Regions from separate parts of the Homo sapiens genome. Here region 1 is linked to region 2. The links come from fine-mapping of genetic effects on gene expression. A gene starts in region 2. The other region holds a variant in brackets. All regions are shown on one strand. Distances are from middle to middle.

What was found. PIP is the estimated chance that this variant, and not a neighbour inherited with it, causes the effect. A credible set is the group of variants that fine-mapping cannot tell apart.
Region 1: its variant is the best candidate, but not a certain one, in a credible set for the expression of LUZP2 in tibial artery (GTEx, PIP 0.90).

Annotation. Positions count from the first base shown.
Region 1 is chr11:23,972,633-23,980,982 of GRCh38, reverse strand. No RefSeq gene overlaps it. Among named protein-coding and RNA genes, the nearest start is that of LINC02726, 250 kb to the right of the region's middle. The variant A/G (reference allele first, on the strand shown) is at 3,810.
Region 2 is chr11:24,494,003-24,502,352 of GRCh38, reverse strand. It overlaps LUZP2 (leucine zipper protein 2), which reads right to left and starts at 5,300. Exons shown (of 12, transcript NM_001009909.4): 1 at 5,048-5,300. The coding sequence starts at 5,109.

The DNA of each region.
Region 1 (8,350 bases), 520 kb after region 2:
AAAATATACTTTAAGTCAAACTATCATAAACACATTCTATCAACATGATAGTTATCTGTGAATCTCATCAGTCTGGAGTTGATAGGTTTATAATATAATTTCTCCTACCATACAGGAGTTCCAGGAGCCACCATAGGTAACAAGGTAACTGTACAAAAGTTGGTCTCTTTATACCTTGCAGGAACAGAACAATGACCAAAATATTAAGGGCCTCTCAGATTCTAAATGACTACTTAAAAAGGCGAGAGTGATGAAAAATTTAAAATAAAGAATGAGAAAACTGAAAGAACTAGTTCAACCAAATATATTTATTGAGAGTAAAAGCTCTAAGGCACGTGGTAGCAGAACATTTTAGTACAAAGTAGGAGTATGAACCGAGAGGCAATAATTGTCACTTAAATTCCAAGAATATACACTACTAATGCCAATTACTGCAACAGCGGTTATGGAAATTTTTCACTTCAAAATTATAGCTCTGCACACTGTAGAATGTGTGAGGATAATTTGCTACTTTCCTTCACTCACACCCCCTCTCTCTTAACCCCTTCTTAACCGTTTCCAAGTAGGCTTCTCTTGAGAAGGGGTCATTTTTGGTGTTACTTATGGTCTCAAGATGGCCACATTTGGTTGCAGAGTTAAATAGGGCAAGAATTCTTGTTCTTGAAAATACCTCCTGTTCAATGAGAATATAATTCTTATGACTTAAATCAGTGCATTGAGCTGTCATTCAAGTATGAAATCCTAGGAGATGCTGGAAGAAAGATAGGTCAATGACTCAAAAAAGAATCTGGAGCCTTTCACTGAAGATTTTGAATTTAGGATACTGTATGGCTTTTGTAGAATATACTATTTCTAACAAACTAGCAGCAGGAGCCACCTCAGAAACTTCTGGTGAGAAAAAAAAAAGCTCTACAAAATGTTTTTAGAGCTAAAAATATTCTGTCATTTTAAACTAACAACAGCCATATGTCAGAGACTGTGTGTCCAACCAATAGATCTGAGAGTTGTAGCATTAAACATATTAGAAACAATGGAGGGAAAGCAAAAAATACTAACATCAGATATGGCAGCGTAACATCACCACAGACTGCACAGACATAAAAGGATATTAAAGACATGTCTTAAACAATTTTATGCAAGTCAATTGGACAACTTATATGAAATGGGCACACTCCTTACACTCCTTTAAAGGCACAAACTACCAAAGCTCAGTGTCCAGAGAAACAGAACCAATAAAATGTGTGTGTTTATTTATATATTTATTTACTTATTCCTTATCAGGTTTTGGCCCCATATGTACAAAGTGAGTTGACAAACTGGAGACCTGGCTGTCAGGCAGGAGGTAATCTCTCTTACTTGAGAGAGTGTCAATCTTGTTATCCTTCTATTCATGTCTTCAACTGATTGTATGAGGTCCACCCACATCAGAGAGGGCAGTTTGTGTTAATCAACCAATTTCAATGTTACTCTCTTCCCCAAACACCCTCACAGAAACACCCAGAATAATGTTTGAACAAATATCGAGGCACCCGGTGGCCTTGTCAGATTGACGCATAAAATTAACCAACATACACACTCAAGAAGAAATAAAGAAATTGAGTAGCCTAATTACATGACTATTATTAACCTAATTATTTTGTTAACCTGTTAACAAAATTGAATTTTAGTTATAAACCTTTCCACCAGGAATCCTCTGTACTCATATGGTTCACTGGTAAATTCTACTGGATACTAAGGAATAAAGTAGAACTAATTTTACACAAGCTCTTTCAGAAAGTTGAAAAAGCAGTAATACTTATGAACTCATTCTAAGAGAATGACATTACTCTGAGAACAAAACTAAGATATTAAAAGAAATGAAAATTGGAGACCAATGCTCCACATGAGTATGGATGCAAAATTTCTTTTAGAAAATCATATACCATATATACCACTGTACTTAAGATAGATAATCCACCAATTCAAAGTAGGTTTTTTTCACAGAAATTTAAATTAACATTAGAAATTTAATAAATGTGATTCGTTACATTCACAGACAAAAAATAAAAATCATATGATCATCTCAACATATGGATAAAAAAAGAACTTGATCAAATCTAAAATCACTGAAGAAAATTCTTAGCAAACTAGAAACGAATAAAACAATTTTTTCAACCCAATCTTTGGCAAACTGACAGCTTATATCATTATATCATATTACTTATGAGCAGTAGAATGCTTTCCTCCTAAGATCAGGAATAAGGCAAAGATGTCCATTTTTGCCTTTTTTTTTTTTTTTAAGACAGAGTTTTGCTCTTATTGCCCAAGCTGGAGTGCAATGGCGCAATCTCGGCTCACTGCAACCTCCGCCTCCCAGGTTCAAGCGATTCTCCTCTCTCAGCCTCCCAAGTAGCTGGGATCACAGGCATGCACCACCACGCCTGGCCAATTTTTTGTATTTAGTAGAGATAGGGTTTCACCATGTTGGTCAGGCTGGTCATGAACTCCTGACCTCAGGTGATCCACCCGCCTTGGCCTCCCAAAGTGCTGGCCCCTTTTTTGCCATTTTTGTTTAGCATCATACATGAGGTTCTAGTAGTGCAACATGGCGAGAAGAAGAAATGAAAGATTTCCAAGTTGGAAAGAAAAAATGTAAACTGTTTTTATTCATGGACTAAATAACCAACTCTTCAGAAAATTCATTGCAATTTACAAAAATGCTAGTATAACTAACTAGTAAGTTTATCATGGTCATAGTGTACAAAAATTAATATCTAAAAATTATATTTCTAGATAGTAGCAAGGAATGAATACATTAAAATTTTTAAATATGTTGTAATAGTATAAAATATGATATATTTAGGTACAAATCTGAAAAATGATGTTCAAGGCCTATACCTAAAAGCTATAAAACCTAAAACAAATGAAGAAATGTACCATGCATTTAAATATGCACAAGCCCAGCATGATGATTCATGCCGGTAATCCCAGCACTTTGGGGTGAAGGCAGGAGGATCACTTGAGCTCAAGAGTTTGAGGACAGCCTGGGCAACATGGTGAGACCTCATCTTCACTAAAAATAAATAAATTTAGTCAGGCATAGTGGCGCACGCCTGTAGCCCCAGTTACTCAGAAGGCTGAGGTGGGAGGATCACCTGAGCCTGAGAGACGGAGGCTGTAGTGAGCCATGATCGCATCACTGCACTCCAGCCTGGGTGACAGAGAAAGATCTTGTCTCAAAATAAATAAATAATTCATAAATATGCACAATTCATTGTATGTCAATCATTCCTGAATAAAGCGCTAAAATATTATGAACAAGTAAACACATTTTTAAGGCCTCCTCAAGGGCTTTGGAAAAGTTCTGTTAAAGTGACACCTTCTGAAACTTTACTTCTTTAGATTGACTATAAACCTATAATGCTAAAGAGATACATCTAGACCTCTACGGACCAGTGTCTTAGTCCTCAGATAAGACTAGGGTTAGCACATAAAGCCTTTCAAAGGCAGGGACCTTCTAATGTTTGTGGCTGCACCTTGGCATCTATAACTGTGAGATCAGAGAGATATTAGAATGATTGATTGAAAGCATCAGCTCATCTTTCATAATCATAAGTGCTTAGCTATAAGAACTTACCTACTCATTATGAAAGAAACTCCTACAAAATAATATGTAGTTAAATGATTTGTCAAATCATAGATATGGGAAAAATAAGAGATACAATTCTATTTGTTTCTATACTACTATTGAAAGATTCCTGAGGCAACTGTGAAAATGAGCTTAGTTTTAAGTTAGGAAAAATGTCTCATGCTAGAAATATGTTTAGAGT[A/G]AGTCAATGAATTCCTTTGAGAATTAGGGTTTCAAAAGAAGGAAAAATATCTAAAAAGTCTATCAGAATTATTTTCTCTTTTTTCCCCTTTTACAGCCACCAGTAAAATTAGGAAGTCATGAAACTAAAGTTCTTGACATCTTCAAAAAATTATGAGGTAGGGAATCTTATCCACAGAAAGCAGTGAAGAATATTAAGGCTTAGAAAGAACAACTTGCTCAGGTCTTGGCATGAGAATGGTAGAGTTAACACTTAACTGAGATCATGCTGTTTCAAAATCTGTGATCATTCCTTCTATCATAAACAGAAGTGATAGACAAAATGTCTGGGATTTTCCTTTCCATTCTGTGGTAACTGACTTCTACTCTTAGCTTAGTTATAATTTATAGTAACAACTTATACATGGGGCTGTTCTTTCTGATGTAGCTTTTAGGAAGGGGCATTCACTTATTAGGAAGGTACAGAACATTAATTTTTTAAAATATGCATCAGGCAGTCAGTTCTGATGACTTTCATATGTGAATAAAAGGTTTTCATCACTTGGGCTGTGGTAAATGGAATGTTTCACATTGTGACAGAATATGGATGAAGAAAAGGGAAGGCAGATAGCAAGCAGGGAAGAACGAAGATCCTTCCTAGAGAAATTAAGTGACTCAAAGGAAGTTCAAGAAGTACAAGAGAAAAAGGAGAGTGATGAAAGGAGGATCTGAGAAGGTTGGACACATTCACAAGTCTTGAAGAAGGTTATCATAAAAAATTAACAAATACAGTTTACTGGCATGAGATCTATCAGTGACTAACGTGTGCTTTTTTTCTTCTCCAACTATTGAGAAAAGCAGAAGTAAAGAGCCAAAGAGAAACTTATACTTCTTTTTTTTTTTTAAATTTTATTATTATTATACTTTAAGTTTTAGGGTACATGTGCACAACGTGCAGGTTTGTTACATATGTATACATGTGCCATGTTGGTGTGCTGCTCCCATTAACCTGTCATTTAGCATTAGGTGTATCTCCTAATGCTATCCCTCCCCACTCCCCTCACCCCACAACAGTCCTCGGTGTGTGATGTTCCCCTTCCTGTGTCCATGTGTTCTCATTGTTCAATATAAGATACTTTAATGATCACACCAGCATCAATACTCAAAGGGACTAGTGAGACCAAGAAAAATCAAGGGACCATGAAAGGCAGAGCTCCAGCATGACTTATACATTCGCTATCTATTGACTTTATGCTCACAGGACTTTCACTCCTGCATCAAGAGGCCTAAGTTCTCATCTACTTAGGGATTATTCTGTATAGGTGAAGAAACTGAGGTCAAGGGGCATACCCAAGTTAAGAAACTCATACATTCCTGGTTCTTTTTCCACTGTACCACACTGCTTTTTATTCATATCCAGATATAGCTTGTATTTGGCTTCATTTTAATGTGTGTGTAAATGCATCATTTTTACAAAGAGTGTCACCTATAGAAAATTGATCCCATCAGTTTGTCTTAGTTACTTTGATTCTATATGCAAAATACAATGCAAATAAGGGTGGCAATGGTATAATTCCACTTAAGCATTCACTCTCCCTCATTTCCTTCAAGCATTTCAACTTGTTCGAGAATAAGCTTTGTAACTTATTGCGAGCAGCCTGAGAAACCCCAGAGAAGAGGATGGGTGGATCGACTACACATTGAGTAATAGATGGGAAAAATTTTCTGTATGTGATACTTCAAATGACATTCCTCTATTTCCATATTGTAAATCTTTTAAATATTACATCGCCATTTAAAAGCCGTCTAGAAGGTATTCTTGATATAAATTTTGAACAAATATATATACATACCAGCCTCCTGTCACAGTTTTACCACTCATTTGCTGTGTGACATTCTTGTTTAATGTCTCTGTGCTGTAAGTTTCATTTAGGATAATGAAACAAAAGATCTCTTTTATCTCATCCAGGTTTGACATTTTGTCATCTAGTACAGGAAGATATTCGGCCACTTTCTGTTGACTTACAACCACCTGGAAACCCAGCTTTCTCACTGCCACTGCCCACATTCTGTCCCTAAGTTCTGTTACTCCGTCCACCCCCTTTCACCCAACCCAGCACCTTTAGGCAGAAACAGATGTAGCAGAGACTTTATTCTACACTATGACCAGGGCTGGGACCCTTTGTACATGAAACTTGTGATATGTGTTATTAATTTTTGCTAATTTATTTAATGACTTTTCAAGTCAGTGAGGAGGCAGATCACAATGATCTAACTGCCAAACAAGGATATATGCCTTCAGAGTGTGCTTGAAGACCTTTAAAGAAATTAGTTTCCATTTATGGTGAAGGTATTTAAAGAAAGGCCCTCATCATCATCATTGGCAATATTGCCAGAAAACCAAGAAAATATGTTATGTGTAATCTTTGGAAAATAATAGATAAAACCATAAGAAATCAGGAATGAAACTATTTTTGGGAATAGAATGCTACTGTGTTTTTTAAAAAATTCTCCAAATATTTAGTCTCATCTGTTTTCACAAAATATCTAACAGGGTGTCCCATCATTTTGGCCTGCAAGATAAAGTCTGAATGTTGCATCCTTTACTTTTATTTAATGTTATTAATTCAATGAACATTTATTGAGATCCAGTATTTACAGACATCATACTAAATAGTAGAGACACAAGCTTGAGTAAAGTAGACTTACTTCAACTTTAATCTATAGCAAAAGAGGCAGGGACTCTAAGTAGAAAGTTACCAAACTCAATTAGGGTCCAAACAAAGGATTGTATAAGGTGTCACTGAGGACAGAGAATAGGTGGCAACTAATTTTGCCTGAGCGACAAGGACAATTTAACAAAGAAATTGGTCTTGTCAAACAAGAGATTTTTTTCCATTAAGAGTGGGAATTTCCTTGGAGGGAAGGGCAGAGGGCACATTCCAGACAGAATAACCAGAGTAGGCATGTGGAGACAAGAGAGCTGATAGAACATTTAGAGAACACACCATAATTTGATGCTGTTGGAGCATAAGTTTGTTCAAAAGAAATCGCATGGAGAAGCTAAGTAAGACGGGTACAATGTTGCAAAAAGACTTGTAAGTCAACCTAAGGAATATGGTGACCCATGCTAATATTTCCAGACCATCTTTTGGATATATACTTTTATACTTTTATGTTTGTCCAGTGTCTGGCCCCTAGCCTCCCTCCTCCCTTTTTCCTCATAAATTCCTGGTTCTCTTTCCACTGCAATAATTTATTTCATAAAGTAATTATAATTTTATTTTGAAGAACTAATTCCCTCTCATATTGAATCATTATAATTTTACTAGAGATGATTGCATCTTTTAGATTCAGGAATGAGAATGTAACTTACATCTGCAAGGCTGTGTATTCCTTTCCCAGACTACAACAACTAGTCGAGGAATAGATGTTACTGTGAAAGGAAAATACGTCTCAGGATCCCAAAATCACTAAGCCAAAGGGGAAAAGTCAAGTTGGGAACTGGGTCACACAAACCTGCCTCCCATTTGATTCCTAAATAAGACAGCTACAAAGATAAAAAAACTACATAGCTCCCTCACAATTTTCCCACAAGGAACTTTCTTGTGGGCCCCAAGTTCTTTACTCTAAAGCAGTCCTATTCAATTTCACCCTGGCAATGTAAATTGATAGCTTTATTCACAAGTGCAGGACAAAGGACAGAACTCAAAGTCATTCATCTGTTCACCTGAGACAAACGCATATCTGATTATGTAAAAATGCAGATTCATGCCAGACAAAGGCATGAGTGACTATTTACTCGCCCCCTACTTGAAAATTGTGTATTTAGTAAAAGGCTGATCAAAGACTCAACAGAATGCAACCCTTTGTCTCTTATCTCCCCACACATTTTTTAAATTTCTTTCTCTTCCCCCAATATACACCCTTTCCCATTCAAATATTTAAGCTCTCAAAATCATCTTTGGATAAAGGCCTCCAGGGCATGTGGTCCTTAATTTTGGCAAAAAAAAAAAAAAAAAAAGTCCTAAAATACTTGAGACTCACTCACTTCGGTCATTTTCATTGATTTACATTACCTATGTTGATTCACTAAAAACACATCTCAGAAACATTGCCATAATGATTGAAAGAACTGCCACTACAGCCAGAGTATAATCTGAAACCAAAATGCCATTTAAATTTTCAGTTTGTAAGGCAGTACAAAAAAAAAATCCCATTTTGCATAATTTAATTTGAATTTAGATTATTTCATTTGCAGCCAAAATATTTAGACAAAAAGCAACAATTTAATATGTTTATGTTTCATAATGTGAGGTATGGTTATATTTTATATCTAGATCACTGACATTTTGATGTCAGTTTATGGTAGAGATTGAAGTGAGAGAGAATGCAGGGAGAAAGGTCAGAAAGATTGGCTTGAAAATCTACAGTAAAAGAAAAATGGTAAGACTCTAAATTAATGTAGTGATCCTGGAAATGGAGTCTGCAAGTCTGGCCTATTTTATTCCACCTCGAATCACCAGGTCCAGACTCAGAGCCTAACACATAGTGTGTGCCCAA
Region 2 (8,350 bases):
AACCAAATAACCCCCATTATACCTCTGACTTCCTCTCTTCTCTACCAATCATTCTTTTCTTTTGGATGATGACTATGCTTCTTGTTAATTTCATGTCACCTAATTGATTTGTATCTATATTTTTTCTTTTTTCTGCTATGGCCAAATCAATCACAAAGATTTTATAAAAATAATATTAATAATACCATAATAACTGTACAGGCTAACCTTTGTTGAGTACTTAGGGAATATGCTAAACTGTTTCCACGGATGAACTCATTCAGTCCTTACAATTGAAGGCTGTTACCTTCTCAAGTAGGTGTTATGGGGAGGTCTGTGTTCTACATCAGAAAACTGGATAGAGAGGATAAGAAGTTTACCTAATAACATATAGTAAGTGTGGCAGGATATTGAGGTTGATCACAAAATATTTTTCTTTTCAATATCCTTGGAAAGTAGAAGTTGCCCCAGACACCACTTAATTGGCATTATTAACTCTTTGCTTCATTCACACTTAGAAATTTGTGTAAAATTTTGTTGTTATTTACCCAATTTTGTTTTATATATCATTATTTGTATGTATGACTAGATTATGGATATACATAACTAATCTATTGTTTTATTGCCCTGATGGTGCATGTAATAACTGACTGATAGCAGGCACATTCTTACTGCATGATAATGAAACATCAAAGACATGTCTACAGGGATGAAGACAAGTTCAGAGAGTCTTTTTGGATTTCTCAGAAAAGGAACCATAATTTTAAACAGTACCTGTTTAATCAGGTTACTTAAATGATTTAGCACCATTTGTAAAAGGGATTTTAGCAAATCTTCTAGAAGTCACTGAGAAACAGCCGCACACATAGTTTCTTATAACACACACCAGAAAACATTATTTCATTAGAACCACGCATTCCTCATTGGTTTCAGTGATCTTTGCTTCTTAGTTAGAAGGTCAAGTTCTTCCTTTCAATTACATGGAGTTTGGTTAAGGACAACTGTACAGACAAATCAAATATTTGAGATGTCCCTATCATTAATCACAGAGAAAATTTAATCCACAAAGATAATCACCAGATAAGTCATTTTAAAAACTGCTATTGGAAATAGGTGACTAAGGTGCAAAACTGCAATGTAAGAAGTCAAAATATTTGTGTGTTAATATCTTCTTAAGAAAGCCATACCTCTATCTCATTTACATGGAAGGTACAATTTTTATCACAAATAAAGGAACGTAGGTAGCATCCTGTAAAATGTCATGTGTGGCAGACACTGTGCACAGGACTTAGGAAGCAAACCCATGTTGCCTCAAAATATTTCAGGAGAGTTAAGGTGAGACTGCTTCTTGCATCAAATTTATTTGGGTAAAAATATTTTTTGTGTGTTCTCATTGTGTTTATTGTGATTCTTGTCCTTTATTCTACAAATCAAGTTGATCTTGAGGTTAGTTTAATTCACGGAACAAATAGCCCGGGGCATCTTCAATATATAGTATCATCTAAAAATAGATTCCAAAATAAACATGTAGTGTGACTGCTGATCAGACAGTCCAGGAGAGACCTCTAAGGTGACTCCTGTTGGGAGGACTATAACCGACCATCTGCTCAAAGTTCTTGCTTCATGGAAAACCACCAGAAGTCAATAGACCTTCACTCCTCCCCTGCCATGTCTCTCTCCTTATTAAGTCATTTAAAAGTTAACAATCCAAAGGCATCAAGAGTATAACCACAGCGTAAAGGAACAGAGGTTCAGCAGAATAAAGCATGAGCCTTCTCCAGCACTCCATGGGTCCCTTTTCACCAAGAACTTCTAAAGAATTTTTCACCCTACCATTACTTTCAATACCTATACTGCTTCTTTCTGAAGTGAATTACTGCCTACCTTGGAATAGCAATTTAATACTATACAACAAGGCTATCTTAAAAGTATAGTCATTCTACTCCAAAGCTATTAAACCAACATGTTTGCTTTCTTTGATCACATTTATTTGTGTACAGTTTAAATGAGTTTCTGTATTAGTTACATTATTCATATCATTAACTTGATTTTTTTTGGTAATTTATATGCATTTTCTAAGCAGGAGAGACCATATGCCAGGACATTAAACAGCTCTTTTTCTTTGTTCGTTTTTTAAAACTCTATGGGGTTTACCAGTAAAACAGAGAAAAATGCTTGGCTTTTGTGTAAATTGAACATTTAGCTTTCTTTCAGGACAAATACATTAACTCTGATTGGGGGCCATTGATGTTCACTGTGATTAAATTATGGGATTTTGTGCTTCAGCATCTAAAGTTGCTTCAGAAAAGGTGAGAAGGAGGAACAAGCAAAAAGAGAAAGCTATTCAAAAATGTCTATTTAAAAGGCAGGATTGTTTTCTATTCAAAAATTTCTGTTTAAAAGACAGGATAGTCGCTGTGGGCTAGATACCATTAGACCTGTTCACAACACAGTCAAAAGACTACCTTTTCACCTGCAGCATTTGTTTCACTGAACAGATTACTTTAAAATAGAACTGAACTTCAGACCTATTGGAAATAAAATAGCAAAGTATTAAGGCAATGCACTCAGAGAAAGATATAATGAAACAAATATATATATATATTTGCATTAAGAGTCTCCGCTCTGCATTCCCTACACTTTGGAAAGAGTTTGACAATAAAAGACAGGTGAGATTACCCAAAGGCTATAGGAAAAACTAGCAATTACCACCACCTGCTAATGCATCCAGCGTGATCTAAACATGTGAAATACCATTTGCTTCACATACAGGACTACTGACTAAGAAACTAAGTTAACAGAAGTCTTTGGCCAGAAAACCCACTGTCCCAGGTGGCCATGGCTGAGCTACTCAGCTTTTCCCAGCAGGACAATAAGCTCATCCCTACTAACACAACTGTCCTTTCAAAGCTGCTCAGTTTAGGTTCTAATCTGCACAATAACCATGTGCCTATAAGAACTGTTAAATATTATACACAGAATGGCCTTCTGTTAGAGATCTTTAAAACATATTCTCTTCTTTGCAAAATGACACTGATAGTACCGCATTGCTTTTCATATTTGTTCAATATCACAGGGTATTCTGGGTATCCAGTAAAATGAATTCCTACAGAGTAATCACATTAATAAGATATGCTACTTATTATAAATATTTCATCTTTTTCAAGCCCAGCATTCTCTTCTGGTAAAATTTAATAACCATAGTTTTCACATACCACAAGCATTGCAGAAGTTTCAAAGCTAAAGTGAAATAGATGATTATTCCAGTTTTTGTTGTAATAAGTGTGTTAACTATTTTTAAAGAAATTTATCCCTATCAAAATCAACACTTTCATGAAAGGAAAAGATAATGGCTTTTTGACCCTGTATTAGATATCGAACATTAAATCTTTGGACGCTAGAGACTATAGAGCTTTTTCATTCAATTTAATTATAGTATCCTTAAAAAGCAAATGTACTTTTGGAACTCTAGAGATGTTCACAGTCTAAAATCACTGTGGGCTGGATTTCTATTGTTTAAATATTTCCTATTATTTATGCATGTGTTGACTGTCATCTACTTAAGTGTCCAAAGTTAGAAAATTTCCTTTCTCTAGAAGACTAAATCACAACATAAGAGTGAATGGCAAGAATTTAAAGAATAACTGTGATGCATAATTTGTATTGAACTGTTGAGAGCTAACCACAAATATTAAAATGGGCTCTGTATTTAGAGCAACTAATTATAATACTGGGAAGCAAACTGGTTTTCTTTAAAACCATCTGCACTTTATGAGCTGAAGTGACAAGCAAACCTTACAGAAAATGAAGAATCAAACTTACATTTCATTTTAATCTGGGAAAGTCACCTGGGCTTTGTTTGCAAGGAAAGACTAAATTTATCAATTATTGAGGGTAAATGAAATAGTCTCTACACTAAAAGGAAAGTTTGGTTACACAGGCCTGAAAGAAGGTGTGTAGATTAGGAACGGAATCAAGAATTTTACAGCCTTGATTTGTAAGACAGAGTAAGTTTTCTTCATCCTTTTCCATTTCAGAATTAGAAACAACCCTATATCCCTACTTTATTTGCCATCAGATGCACAATCAAATAATGTTTCTATTCACGTAGACTTGAAAGGATCTTCATCCTGTGTGGGTTATTTTATTTTATAGTAGCCAAGGGAAAGAGGTTGCTGCCAATATGATGCTAAGGGCATGCAGAATAAAGACAGTCCTGGGCAACTAAACAGTCCACCTTTGTGCTGCGCTTGTGGAAGAAAAAAGCAAACCCATCACAACTTTGGGACTTGATCAACAGTGGGGAGTCACAAAACTCTTCTCAATCTCTGCATTTTAAATCTCCACCAAAAATAGCTCCTCTGTAATGGGGCTTAAAGTCCCATCCATGGCCAGTGATGGAGTACAGTACTTAATTGTTTCTGACTAGGGTCTCTGCATCAGCACTCTGAGAGTGTCTTCTAACTTTTAATCGCCTTCTGTGCTCTTTAATTAGACCTGTTCACAAGACAGTCAAAAGAAAACGCCTATCACTAAGCTTATCCAAGACGTTGAAACATGCCATTTCAGGAGTCCAGGAACTTTTGTACAAGTCTTAGCATCTTCCAGGATTAATCTGTTTTCTCTGGTTTCCTCTTCCTTAAATCAGGCACACTTGGGGGAAGGGAGAAGCTCTATGGTTATTAAGACAACTCCAATGTAAAGACACTGCCTGGTGGCAATTCCCTCCTTGCCTATTTCCGTTCTTTATTTTGTTCTTTTACCGCGTGTTACCTTTTGGCTACTAATAGGACCGGAGGGTAAAATGTCTTTTCTCTCCTTCGGAAGAGAAAGCTTTTGATCCCTCACTGAGAGCAATCCTAAGACTTTCTCCAGGGGGCTGGGATAACTAGGAAAGGGCTCTGCTCTCTCAGAAGGATTTCAGAGCCCAAACCATACAGCGTCCCTCTTGCTTAGGCGGGAGATGCAAACAGCTGAAGTGCCTTGGCCCCCACTGGTGACCCACAGTAGGACCAACCTCGCCCCGGCAGCGCCCCTGGCCTCAGGTCACTCACGCTCCTGGACTCACCTGGTGCTGAGGACCAGCGCAGGCAGGAGAGGCAGCAGGTAGTGCGCTGGGCTGAATTTCATGCTGCTGCCTGCCGGGGTCCTCCTTCCCTCGCTGCCTTCTCTCTCTCTCTTCGGGATCCTGTCGCTCCTTGGTGCCCGGCTCTGTCCCCAGCCAGTGATGAGCGCTCTTCCGAGGCGGAAAGGCGGAGACGGGCACACGAACGGACGCCTGGGGAAGGCAGGCGCTGGGAGCGAGGAGTATCTTCAGGAGTGATGTCACCGGCGAGGCGAGCCCTGCCGGGGATTGTTCGGCGCCGCCGCTCCGGAGCCCGGAGGGCGCGCCGTCACTCGCGCTGGAGGCGGCGCGGGGAGAGGGAGGGGGCGCCTCGCGATCGCCCCGTGCGCTTCGGTCACCGGGCTGCGCTCTGGTCAGTCGGGTGAGCACTGGCCAGGGGCGGATCATTTATTCCCGCTGCTCCCCAGGATGGCGCGGGGCGGGGCACGGAGAGTAGAAACCTAATCTGCCGATAATTGAACTTGCGTACTCGGCAGGAGATGAGACCCAATTCACTGGGAGAGACTTCCAGACGCGTAGGGTCCTAGGCAGGTGTCTCTCGCCGCTTAAACCGTGTTTGGAAGAACGTCGCTCTGGAGAGAGTGTTTAGAAGATTGTTCTAATTAGAACTGCATAATGATTTGCCTGAAACAGATGGAAGGAAGCGGGAGTAAGCAGCGTCCAGAAATGCAACCTCAGCCCGTCATGGCATTGCAATCTTCTTAACCCGTGAATGTTGACTGCAAAGAACCAAAGAACGTTTCGGGACCGTTAAGACATCTGCTGCTCTGGGTTTTGAAGATTTCTGATCTTCCTCTGATTTCAGTCGTCTGTACCAGCACCTGCCAATGGGGTTGGACCTGGTGGCTCAAGTTCACACACCTGAAGGAGTCCTTTTCCTCAGGTGAAACTCATCAAGGAGACCTAGCGGACAAAAACCATTAAAATGTTAACAGTAATCAGCTCGGAATGATGGTACTGGAAGGTAGAGGTTTTGTAGGTCATTTGGTTTTCTATATTTTCAAATGTTCTATCATAAGCATCCAATATTTAATAGGCTCTATTTAGAAATTTTAATTAGAAAAATTAAATAGCACAATTATAATCCAAAACACCATTTTGCAAAAGCAATTCTGAGAAACAGAACTACTATCTCTGCTACTGAGATATTCAATTCTAGGATATTTATAAGATGATATTGCATGTGTGTGTGTGTGTGTGTGTGTGTGTGTGTGTGTGTGAGTGAGAGTGAGAGAGAGAGAGAGAGAGAGAATGAGAATTCCATCTGGATATTATCCTGGTTATATAACTGTGTATAAGGCACTTCTTCATACAGTATTTAATTTAATCTTCACAAGAGCCATCCTAGTGAAATAGACGTTAATATCACTATTATAGATATGAGCAGACTGAATATCATCAAAATCTGACTATGCATATTAAAAAAAAGAACTGGTTCTACTAAGTCCTAAGAAAAATTCCACTGTTGCCTCAAACATCACAACTAGCACTCCTAGCCCAGTGTTTGACACAAAGTTGTGTTCAGTAAAGGGTGAGGTGCACCAAAGTCCCGAAAGATAATGGACAGCTGTGTCCAGGAATTCCTATCTAGAGGTTTCAGTTCATGTTCCAATTATTTCGGGGGCAAGCTCTTTACAGAAAAATTTAGATGATACATCCTCTTCAATCTCATTTTCGAAGACATTTGTAGGAAAAATGCATTTGCTGTAAAGCTTTATTTTAAAGAGGATGCAAATCTAAAAGGTTAACCATCTAATTTACTATTTTTTTTAAATGGGATTGAAGGTTAAGACATGTATGTAAAACAGATTTGCTTCAAAATCTTGAGCTGCTGAACTAGATGAGTAATAAGTTTTGAAAAGTGAATATTAGCCCCTTGGGCAATAATAATAAGATCCACAACATTATCGATCTTGTATATGCCTAATAAGTAGGCATATACAAATAAACTAACATGTGAATTGCATATCATTTAAGAGAAAAAAACGACACCACACTTTTCTAAAACAGAACTCTGATTCCAAGTAAAATAAAAACTCTGGTTTGCTCCTGCCAGGGTTTTCTAACATAGATTCCCTGCTCACTTTGAAGGAGATTACTTGAGTTGTATACTCAACAAAGACATAAGGCTACTTGGCAATTTTTTTAATGTGTGCACCAGGAAATAACACTCATATTTGTAGAATACATTTTTTATATAACAACTTTGCATCCATTATCTTACGTCCTAATCATAGAAACCAAATGTGGTAGTTATTTCTAGTATTTTTCTCTTTTCCAGTTAAGGTGACAGTTTCAGAGTAGTTAAGTAACTTGCTCAAGGTCACTCAGAGACTTATATAGTGGCGATGGCATTCAAATTCAGTCTGCATTACTTCAAAATGTATGCTTATTTGAGAGAAAAACATTATACACATGTAAGAAAAAACTTTCCCCAACCTAAGTTTTTTTTACTTTCAACTAGACATATAACATAAAACAACAACCAAATTATCTAATATCAATGAATAAAAAAGTCAGAATGAACTTTCTTTACACTGTATCTATATTGGATATCTATAAAGAACCACAAAGTTTGTTGGCCTTTGTGCATTTACTGCAAGCCAAAAAGAAAAAAAAAAAAATCTCTCCAAAAGACATCTAACTTGGAAGGGCATGAGAGCAACATAGTAGGGGAGTACATCTTGAAAGGTATAAGTAAGATTCTGGAAACTCCCACAGATGTAGAGAATTGAAGTATTATTTTGAATTCAAGTACAGATGTGTCTCTCAGCAGAAGTCTTTTCTTCTAGGAAAATTACAAAACCAGGAATCTCCATCACCCATGACATTCTGTCCACATTGTCACATAAAAACCTAAATTCAGAATAAATTTTGTGGCTTTGGAGAATTGGTAGATGAATTTTAAAGATACATTAGTACAGATAGCAATTCACTTATCTTAAACTACTTATCCTATGCTGAGTCCTAACACTGGAGTCAGCAAGCATTGTTTGTGGTAACTGTACCCAAGTCTGAAAAAGAACATCAAGAAAACCCAAGCAGTTGTGCTGAGTCTCTATAAAGTGCTAGGATTAGGAGATATAGAAGCTGTTTTAAAAACAGCTTTATTGAGATTTAATTCAGGTACTAAGAACTTCACCATTTTAAAGTGTGTAATTTAGTGCTTTTATACACATCCATAAGATTATGAAATCATCATCGTTATATAATTCCAGAACATTTTCATCATGCCCAGAAGAAATC